Regions from separate parts of the Homo sapiens genome. Here region 1 is linked to region 2. Evidence: fine-mapped expression QTL. A gene starts in region 2. The other region holds a variant in brackets. All regions are shown on one strand. Distances are from middle to middle.

Region 1 (5,384 bases), 440 kb before region 2:
GAAATCAAATCCAGCTTCTTATTCAATTCTCACTAGAACATCGCTAAAAGATTAACATCTAGCCTTTGAATATTTCTAGATATTACTCAATTTGTAGCTTACTTCACTAAAAATCAATTCCAAATACAACATTTTCTGGAAAGCTTATTGATCTAGAATTTAAAATTGTATCTATTTTCTTATCTTCTCAATCTGTACAAATGTCTAAGCTCTTCCTCATAAGAGCTCCTTTTAGTAAAAACCCTACACCATTCTTCTTTTTTTTTTTTTTTTGAGATGTCTCGCTTTGTCACTCACGCTGGAGTACAGTGGCACAGTCTCAGCTTACTGCAACCTCTGCCTCCCAGGTTCAAGAGATTCTCCTGCCTCAGCCTCCTGAGTAGCTGGGACTACAGGTGCATACCACCACGCCCAGCTAACTTTTGTATTTTTAGTAGAGTCGGGGTTTCACCATGTTGGCCAGGCTGCTCTTGAATTCCTGACCTCAAGTGATCTGCCTGCCTTGGCCTCCCAAAGTGCTGGGATTACAGGCATCAGCCACCGCACCTGGCCCACCTGTATTTTCAAGTCAAAGCTCCATTCCTTTCACTGTTGTTTATATAACATAGGCAAAGGCTGAATGTGTTAAATGTGTCACCCAAATTTCATGTGTTGGAAAATTAATCCACAAATTTATATGCTGATTGGAGGGGGGCCTTTGGGAGGTAACTATGATTAGATAAAGTCATCAGGGTAAGACCCCCACACTGGGACTTGGGGCAAAAGAAGAAGAAAAGAGACCTGAGCTGACGAGCATTCCCTTGCCCTCTGCCATGCTATGATGCAGCAAGAAGGCCCTCAACAGAGGCCAACACTATGCTTTTGGACTTCCCATAATCTCCATAACCCTGAGCTAAATAAACTTCATTTCTTTATAATTTACCCACTCTCGGGTATTGTGTTACAGCAAAAGAAAATGGACTGAGACAGCTAGTTTTATATTTAGTTATATTTGATTTTGTGTTCACTTTGAAAAATTGAAAACTTAGGAACTTGTAATCTATATTCCTTAATTTTAATAAAAAATTTTTGTTGAAAACATAATTAAATCATGCTAAAATGACAGAATTTTCTAAATTTTTAAGTTGTACAAAATTCCTAGTTGATCACAATTTTCAAATGTATTGCTCTGTTTTTGTTAACGACAGATGTTACACTAAGAATGTGCAAAGTTTATAAAACAAAACAATTAGAAAGTTAAAATGGCATAATACAGCTCACTTACTAATGACAATTCTGACACAACACCTTTCAGTAATAATAATAGTATCATTCTAACTTCATTTATCTTATTTTCAACGATATAAATTATAAACATTTAACTGTTTGATTTTTAAATTTTTTTTTAATTTTTTTGAGACTGAATCTCACTCTGTCACCCAGGCTGGAGTGCAGTGGCGCGATCTCAGCTCACTGCAACTCCTGCCTCCAGGGTTCAAGCGATTCTACTGCCTCAGCCTTCTGAGTAGCTGGGATTACAGGCTTGTGCCACCACGCCCAGCTAATTTTTGTATTTTTAGTGGAGATAGGGTTTGACCATGTTGGTCAGTCTGGTCTGGAACTCCTGACCTTGTGATCCGGTTTGATACATTTTATCAGTGTCCCTGAGTGCTTAGAATATATCTTAATTCAGTGTGCAAATATTATATGTAATTTACAATTCACTTGCTGAACTGAAGTAACCAACAATAAGTCTTTCATTATTTTGAAACTCCAGTTAAATCAATTTGTAAAATATAACAATCATTTAATTTTGGTGAATGTTTCCTGTAATTAAAACATAAACATTTTTAGGCAATTAATATACAATTAGTACCTACCACACTGAGGATGTGTTAACGAATCATGTATACGTGTGTGTATGTGTCTTAAGTAGACCTTTCACACCAGATATTTCATAGCAAGGCAGTTATGCACCAGCCTTTAGGCATCAAGAATTCCACATTAATAGTGCTTCTGATAAAATCAGGCAGAAGGCTTATTTGTTAAATAAACTTCTTATTTCAGAAATTGTTTCCCCTTCTGTTTTTAAAGCCCTAGCCCTGCCTCCCTGATGCAACTTTTCATCCCAGCTTGGATCCATTGTCTAGCATTCTTCCCTATTGAAGATTTACTGCAATGCTCTCAAACTCATAATTCCAGTTGATAAAGATATCTAATAAGTATAGAATTTTTATTTTCTAGATAATTTGTATTAATATCCTGAGGAAGAACGGCTACCAAGGGAATGTAAATTATTAGGGTCCTGAGATAATCTGTCATTGAGAGTTTAATGTCCTGTAAAAAAGTTTGTGGTATGTTTGTTTGTTTGTTTTGTTTTTATAAGTGACTATTTTAAAGGGACAATTTAGCATATCTGAGAAATTTATCCATCTTATATTATTATTTGGTAGAGAAAAGACTGGGTTTCTTAATTCTTTAAGCCATTCTTGCATCACTTTCCTAAGAGTATATGTAGCTGGGTCATTCCAGATGTGAACTCAAATTATATTTAAAATAGCCAAAAAATGAGTATAACATAGGAATTTAGGCAAAGAAGAGTGTGTTTCAACATTGGAATCCAGGCAAAGATGAGTACTATAGTTTGGATATTTGACACTCCAAACCTCATACTGAAATATGATCCCCAATGTTGGAAGTAGGGGCCTAATGGGAAGTGAAGGAAGGTATGTCCCTCATGAATGGCTTGGTGCCATCCTTGCAGTAATGACTGAGTTCTCACTCAATTAGTTTCCCTGAGAGCTAGTTGTTAAAAGGAAACTGGCACTTCCCATCTCCCTCACTCTTGCTTCCTTTCTTTCCCTACAAGATCTCTGAACATGCTGGCTCCCCTTTACCTTCCACCGTGAGTGGAAGCAGCCTGAGCCCCTTATCAGAAGCCAGGCAGATTCTGATGCCATGCTTCTTGTACAGCCTGCAGAGCTGTGAGCCAAATAAACCTTTTTTCTTTTTAAATTACTCATCATCAGGTATTCCTTTATAGCAACACAATCAGACTAAGACAATGAGTATAAATCCAAACAAATGCAATCCACCAGAGTATCTAATTTGGGGGACTTAGCTGAGAGTATGAGAGATAAGAAATCTGCAATGTGTAA[C/A]CACCTACACCAATAACATTATATAAATGACTGCTACTAAGTGTCAGAGTGATCTCTTCAATTTTGTTAAGAAATTAGAATTGAAATTTAGTGTAATTACTCATATAATTTTAAGCTATTCAATTTTAGTTACCTTAGATTTAACTAGTAAAACTGAGGTACTCTGAAGAGTAGGTTGAAAGATGAAAGGAGTTATAATAAAGCCTCCGTATGTACTTGAATAATATTTAATTCAGACGTAGTACTCCTACATCAAACAAAAACTCAGCCAACTACTGACCAAAAATCCATGCATTTTTCATAAGTGTTCTTGATCATTTGTACCAATTTGAAAAATTTTGTAATTTCCTACCTTGACTAATTCAGCAGGTTTAGGGTAATGGAAAGTAATAAGGACCCATCCAATCCAATTGGGGTAGAATTTATTAATATAAAATTTCAGACTATTGTATTGGTTGCATATACAAAAAAAAATGATTAGACTAGAGGTATCCATGTTTTCTTTGAAGGAGAATCAGAAGCAAGATATATAAATGATCATGGTATCTGAACCCTAGAAGGTAGTACTTATTCTGTGAATCAACATATACTAGGTCCAGGCATGATGGCTCACACCTGTAATCCCAGCACTTTGGGAGGCCAAGGTGGGCAGATCACCAGGTCAGGAAATCAACATCATCCTGGCCAACATGGTGAAACTCCATCTCTACTAAAAATACAAAAATTAGCTGGGCATGGTGATGCATGCCTATAGTCCCAGCTACTTGGGAGGCTGAGGCAGGAGAATCGCTTGAACCCGGGAGGTGGAGGTTGTAGTGAGCCGAGATCACACCACTGCTCTCCAGCCTGGCGTCAGAGTGAGACTCCATCTAAATATATGTATTTATATATATATTGTGTGTGTGTGTATATATATATATATATATATCTCTACTGGGTGTATATATACATATATAAATATAGTGTATATAGATATCTAGTGTATATATATGTATAAATATATATATATAGTGTGTATATGTATGAAATCTGGATAGTTTCCAACTATTTCTAAAGTGAATAGAACTTAAGTTCTAGTGTGTGTGTATATATATATATACATATGCATAAATATATATATAGTGTGTGTGTATGTATACACATATGTGTACATATATGCTAGAACTTAAGTTCTATTCACTTTAGAAATAGTTGGAAACTATCCAGATTTCATTATGATAAAATTATTTTGAGAACATAATTATTCAAAATAATTGTTGAAATGCTAATCAAAGTTGATGAGGATGCAATGGTCTACCCATCTTCAATTCAATATTTTTGTAATATTCAACAAATAATATTTATACCGTCTGCTTATTAGTTCTATTTCATGAATACAATTCAAGATACAATTCAAGAATTACTGTAATATAATCACATTAATAGATTTACTTAAAACTTTAATTTTAACTGTCAAGCTAATAATTTTATTTTTGTTCCATGTATACAAACAAAGCCCCTTTTCATAAGGAAAGATATCTGATTCTGGTATTCTGTTCATGGTTATGGCCCGGAGAGACCACTGACTTTACTAAAAATCAAACAAACAAGCAAAACATCAATTTTGTTCAACTCAAGCCTAAATCATTTAACAAATATTTCTGGGGCACATAAAATGTGCTATACTTGGGGGAGATTGTTTTAACAATGTATAAACCAAAAAAGCCATAAAGGCTAAGATAGACTTTACTTCAACAGTTAAATTCTTTTAAAATATCTTTTTGTATATCGATCAAATTACCACACACATGTAATAACCTCAGAGAAAATCCTTGACAATGTATATAACAGACAAATAATTTATCACCAGAATACATGAAGATCTATGAATAGATAAAAGTAAGGCAAAAATATTCAATGGCAAAATGAACAAAGCATACGAATAAAAAGGATGACTAGTTTCTTTACAGAAGAAATCCCAATGTCATTAGAAAATTGCAAAAGATGTTCATTGCTACCAGCAATTGGGGAAAAAAAACAGATTATCTGTGTTGCGGGAAGTCAGGGACCCCAAACGGAGGGACCGGCTGAAGCCATGGCAGAAGAATGTGGATTGCGAAGATTTTATGGACATTTATTAGTTCCCCAAATTAATACTTTTGTAATTTCTTATGCCTGTCTTTACTGCAATCTCTAAACATAAATTGTAAAGATTTCATGGACACTTATCACTTCCCCAATCAATACCCTTGTGATTTCCTATGCCTG
Region 2 (5,384 bases):
AACCTCCCAAAAAAGGAGCGGGGAGGTGGAATTTAGCTGCAGGCTCCTTAGCATACCTGGTAACTTGGAAGCCTATGATCCGCTGCATGCTAATCAATCAACCAACAAGTTTTATTAAGCACTTACTAGTTTCCCCACACTGTCCTAGGGACTACATATCTGAGACAGCCTCCATTCTCACATTCCCACTCAGGACTTTCCGAACTGGAATTAATCTATACCAGCAGTACCCTATAATTCCTTTAGAAAAGCTTTCTATTCTTCCTCTCCAAAGCGGATCCGAGACACAGTGCCCCTACTTAAGCAAGTACCTTAAGCCCTGGAATGGGATAAGCATCACAGAAATGGTGAAATAAAAGCATTTATTTAAACAAGCAGAAGCAGCCAGGAAAATTCTCCATGGAATTGAAGGTGGATAGGGGCTAAAGGAGAGATGTGAAATCCTGGTTTATGGCAAACAGTGCAGAGAAATGCATCTTTTTAATGTTCAAAGTCTGCCTTAGGCTACGCAAATTCTCCAGACCTATCCAATTCCCAAATCAAACGAACAGGGTTTCAATATGAAGGTTCTTATTCTGCAGGAGACGTGGGGAAAGAAAAAAAAAAAAAAAACAGAGATTGCGGGAGGGGGGTGCGGGGGGAAAGAAAGATTAGTAATGTAATGCAAAAGTCATTCTTTGAGGAAAAGGAAAGGATGCGTGTAATACAAGGAGAATTATCCCGGAAGGTGAGAGGTCCAAAAGTAAATAACCAATAGGTTGACCTTACTTTTCAATATTCTCGAACCAGCAGGTTTCTTTAACACTAGAGGGCATGAACGCAAACGAGACAGAGAGAGAGAGACAGGGAGACAGCGAGAGAGAGAGACACAGAAAAAGAGAGAGAGAGAAAGAGAGAGAGACGGACTGAGACTCTGAGGAAAGGCAGCTTTCACATAAAGCTGAAAATATTCAAGGATACCAGAAATTTCAAGGGGGCTTTGGCAGCCAAGTGCCTTTAGCCTTGCGAATAAAACCTCTATGTTGTTATGTTGTTTCAGGGAAGGCTGACCACGATCTCTCCAAGGAAACCGCTTTCCTAAGCAATGAATGCATGGTAGTTTAAGGCAGGCATACCTCAGTCCCCAAAGCTCCTCTCCTCTGCTAGCAACACCTTTGCCTGAAGAAAGCTCCCACCCTTTCGAGGTTAGTTTCCCTGAACCCCAAAGCATCTATGTTTGCCTGCTCACTGTCCGTTCTTCTGCAGCTGGCTATAAAGGTTGGGGAGGCAGACTCTCCTCCTGGAAATTCAACTAACCATAGTCAAAGAATCGGGTATGCGGGAGGGGCTTGCGCAGCTTTCGCTGTCCAGAGTAGCAGCCTCAGTGCGCTCAGGTTCGCAGCAGCGCAGCGCCCTCGGACCCGGCAAGGGGAGCCTGCTGCGGTGCCCTCCACTCTAACCCCTTGCGCCCCTCCTTCAGGTCCACGACAGCCTGGACAAGGGCAGGCTGTCTCCTCCGCGTCCCCACTGACCCCGCAGGAAAATCTCTGCACCTGGAGATACCCATTAGATGCGCCAGGGCTTGCTCCCCTAACCAAGGCGCTTCGGGATCGCGGGGCTGGTGTTCGGGAAGACGGGGCAGAGAGATGACAGAGGGAGACAGAGATAAGCTGCGAGAAGCAGACACAGAAAGAGAACAAATGTTGCAAAACGGAGAGACAAAAGGAAAGACAGATTAACAGGGACACAGATATCCCAAGAAAGAAAGAGGGAAACAGAATAAGAGAAAAAAACAGATACATGGCCGGAGAGTGTGGACTGAGGGGACCAAGGCTCAGAAAGAGAAACAGAGGCAGAGACACACACGGCGAGAATGAGAGGCAAGAGGACTCTGAAAAAGCGAGGCAAAGGGGGCACTATACGAAGGCAACCGTCGAGGAAGACACCCAAGACCCAGGGAGCGCCTGGTGTCGGGTCGAGTAGAAACGCCCGCAACGCAGCCGGGGCTGCCTGCAGCTGGTGCGAGAAAGTTGTCTGGGCTTGGAGGCCGAGCCACCCCCGCGGAGGAACGTCACCAGAACGCAGAGGGGGCCAGAGCCGCTCCCCCCCCCCCCCCCGCCACCAACAACTCACCGGGGTAGCCAGAAAAGCAGAGCAGAAGGTGGGCGGCGGCAGAAAGTTCCGCGCCACGCGGTCCTCCCGCAACACCTGCAGCCCCGCAAGCGAGCGCACTCGGAGCTCCCGGGAGGCCGCGTCGCCAGGTCCGCCCGCGCCCCTGCCTTTGCCCTGGGACCGGCCCGGGGCGCTCGGCTCCGCGCCCCGGCACTCGCCGCGGGACTTTGCGGCACCTAGCCCCGGCACTCTGGCAGCCCAGAGGGAGCTCGTCCCAGACAATCAAGAGGAAAAGAGGGGAAGCGAGAAAGAGACGGAGACCTGCTATCCTGGCCAACGATCCCGCGAAGAGGGAACGGCGGTCCACACACGGGATTCAGCCTCAGATCAAGCCCAGCAGGCGCCGGCCGGCCGCGCCGAGTGCGGGGCTCGCCGAGTCCGCGCTCACCTGGAACCCGCGCCGGCCCGCGAGCGCCGCGCGCAGCCCCGGCTCCCGCCCGCGCCTCTCTCTTCACACTTGCCCGCGAGCAGAGGGAGCCGGCTCCAGCCTCGGCCAGCCCCAGAGAGGGGCCTTCATAGCGCAGCGGCGGGCTGAAGGGCTCCTCGAGCGCGGCCAGAGCGGACGCTGAGGCCGAGGAGGCGCCCAGAGCGAGCGAGGGCTGCTAGCACGTTGTCACCTCAGCAGAGCCGCCGCCGCCTGGTCACTTCTCCCCGGCCCCCGCCCCCCTCCCACCCCAGCCCGCCGCCTCCCGGTCCCTCCTCCTCGCGTGGTCCCTCCTCCTCTCGTAGCCCCAGCCTGGAGGCCTCTCACTGGGCTAGTATCATTTACGTAACCAGCACCCCCAGCCCTCCTCCCTCCCTGCTCCCGCTCCTCCCCGGGCTGGGGCGGTGCGCACCGAGCGCGCTCCAGCTGCTTCTGGAGCTGGCGCTTCTGCGATGTGCGCAAGTCCCGCGATACTTGGCAGGCACGGCCCCCAAGAGCAACCCTGGGGTCAGCTCCTCTCGCCGGAGGGCGCCTCGCGACCCCTGGCCGCTTTGGGGCCCCACAACGCCAAAGCCGGCCTGCGTGCACCGCGTTCGCCCAATGCACCAGGGAGCCTCTTAGAGGGGAGCTGGAGGATCAGAGACTGCCCTCGGGGAAAGCGCCGGCAACCCCACCCTTGCCGTCGGCTCTCCAGCCGAGAGATGCTGCGGGGTACTTGACGCTTCGGCGCCCTCCGCAGAAAGGACGGAGGTTGGCCTCTTGTTGGTTACAGTATCTACACCCTGGCAGGATCCTAGTGTTCTGGTTGGCGGTGACTACTGCCACCGAACGCACTGTAAGAGTACTGGAAACACAGAGCGCTTCCTTGTGGCTCTCAAATTTTTATGAAGAGGTAAAGAAAAAAGTGGGGCTTTGAATTCCTTTCTCAGGCAAGTAGGTATGATATTAAACACACACCCACTCCGAAGTACCTGGACGTATGAATGTCTCAGTTAATGTGTTGTACCAATACCCCCATGGTACTGAGTTTAAATACATGTAAAGATTTTAGAACAGTGCCTGGCACAAGGCAGAAACCTAAGACGCAGACATTATTAGCGTCTCAAAGACTTGGGACCTGTCCCCCACTGCCATGGGAGAGGAACTTTTCTAGGAAATTGGGATTGCCGAGTTCAAGTGCCTGCTTGGCAATTTATTCACTGTGGCTCTTGGCTAGTTTTGGCCCTTCGGGTGTCAGTTGTCTTGTTTGTAATAAGGGCTGACAGGGGTCCTTGCTTCTCACAGTGTCACTTCACACATCTTATAGGATGTTTTTGGCAGAATTGGGGGAGGATATAACGACTACATAAAAATATTAAACAGCCACGTTTGACAAACATATGATACTATTAATCATAATCTAGTATGTCAATGCCATTCTTGATTATACTCATGAAAGGCAATTTCCAGAGATATTATCTTTATATCTTTTCGTGAGTCAAGTATCATTTAAATTTCTATGTTAATAACTGTATTAATGTCTCCTCCTACATTGTCCATCCTGCCCTACCGTCAATTATGGAGCATTTACCAGAGATGCTTCTGTGCATGTGTGAGTACACAGGGTCCCACTCATAACACTCTGGAATGTCTCTCTACTGCTCTCTCTAGTGAATTCCAGTCCTAACATCAGGTCACTCACCTCTACATGGCATACTGAGAAAAACTGTGGACCAGGTAAAAGATTGGGGTTCTGATGCTGATACAGCTACTTACTAGTCCTATGTTTTTCAAAGACAAATAAGCCCCCATTCTTACATGTTTCATCTCTTAAAAAAAGGCGCAATTCCATTTTGCAGTCTTTGTGATAATATTTAACTTAGGCAGAATCATAAACTTGGTAAAATTTATTTGGGTAATTGGATATTTACGTAGTCCCAAAGTATCACCCTAGAAAGTATTGGCTTTTGGTGCATAACACACCATTCCAAAACTTATTAGCCCCAACCAATAAACATCTGTAATTTCTCAAAGCTCTGTGGGTTGTCAGGTTGGTTTCTGCCCTGGCTAGCTCAGTTTGGTTTAGAGATCTAGGATGGCTTCACTCACTTGTCTGGTGTGGCATACTTATTAGTCTTGAGGGTGTGGGACTCAGCTGCAATGTTTTGTCTTTTGTTTAATCTAGCCCATCATCCTTCAATAGGCTAGCAGTAGTCGTAGTTGCAGGGCTCCAAAAAGCAACAAGGGAGTGCAAGCTCCAATGTGAAGTACTCTGAGATTCTGTGGACGTACATTTGCTGGTGTCTCATTAGCCATGGAAGTTACATGGCCCAAACATAGATAATATAGTCCATGTCTTGATGGGAGAAACTATAATGCCATATTTCAAGGAGAATGCATACACAAAAATAACTTGAGGCTGTTTTTATAATATACTATAGATCCTTAATTACAAACGAATAATAAATTACATGTAGTGGATAAATCTGGTAAACATCACCTTAACCAACTGACCAAGGTTAAAGTCACCAATAATGGGACCAAGTGATATCATGAGCCTCATGATATGATGCACTGAGAAGTACATAACATTATTGATTTAGGATTCCAGATTAAAAAATGCATAATTGAATGCAATCACGAGAAAGCAAAGAAAGCCTTAAATTAAGGAAAATTCTACACAATATCTTGCCTATACTTTTCAAAAATGTCACTGTGATGAAAGTCAAAGAAAAGCTGAGGAAATATTCCAGACTAATGGAGATTTAAAAACCATGACTACTAAATGCAATGTGTAATCCAGAATTGGAGAGCAAACTGGGAATAATAT

Direction of the effects. Alleles are on the strand shown, and positions count from the first base shown. SD is a standard deviation of normalised expression in the study named.
With allele C in place of A in region 1, the expression in nucleus accumbens of the gene that starts at base 2,794 in region 2 is lower (small effect, 0.26 SD a copy in GTEx).

The links. PIP is the estimated chance that this variant, and not a neighbour inherited with it, causes the effect.
Region 1: its variant is the best candidate, but not a certain one, in a credible set for the expression of GALNT13 in nucleus accumbens (GTEx, PIP 0.89).

Annotation. Positions count from the first base shown.
Region 1 is chr2:154,312,099-154,317,482 of GRCh38, reverse strand. The region is part of intron 9 of GALNT13 (polypeptide N-acetylgalactosaminyltransferase 13); the gene reads right to left. Among named protein-coding and RNA genes, the nearest start is that of GALNT13-AS1, 140 kb to the left of the region's middle. The variant C/A (reference allele first, on the strand shown) is at 3,138.
Region 2 is chr2:153,869,332-153,874,715 of GRCh38, reverse strand. It overlaps GALNT13 (polypeptide N-acetylgalactosaminyltransferase 13), which reads right to left and starts at 2,794. Exons shown (of 13, transcript NM_052917.4): 1 at 2,413-2,794.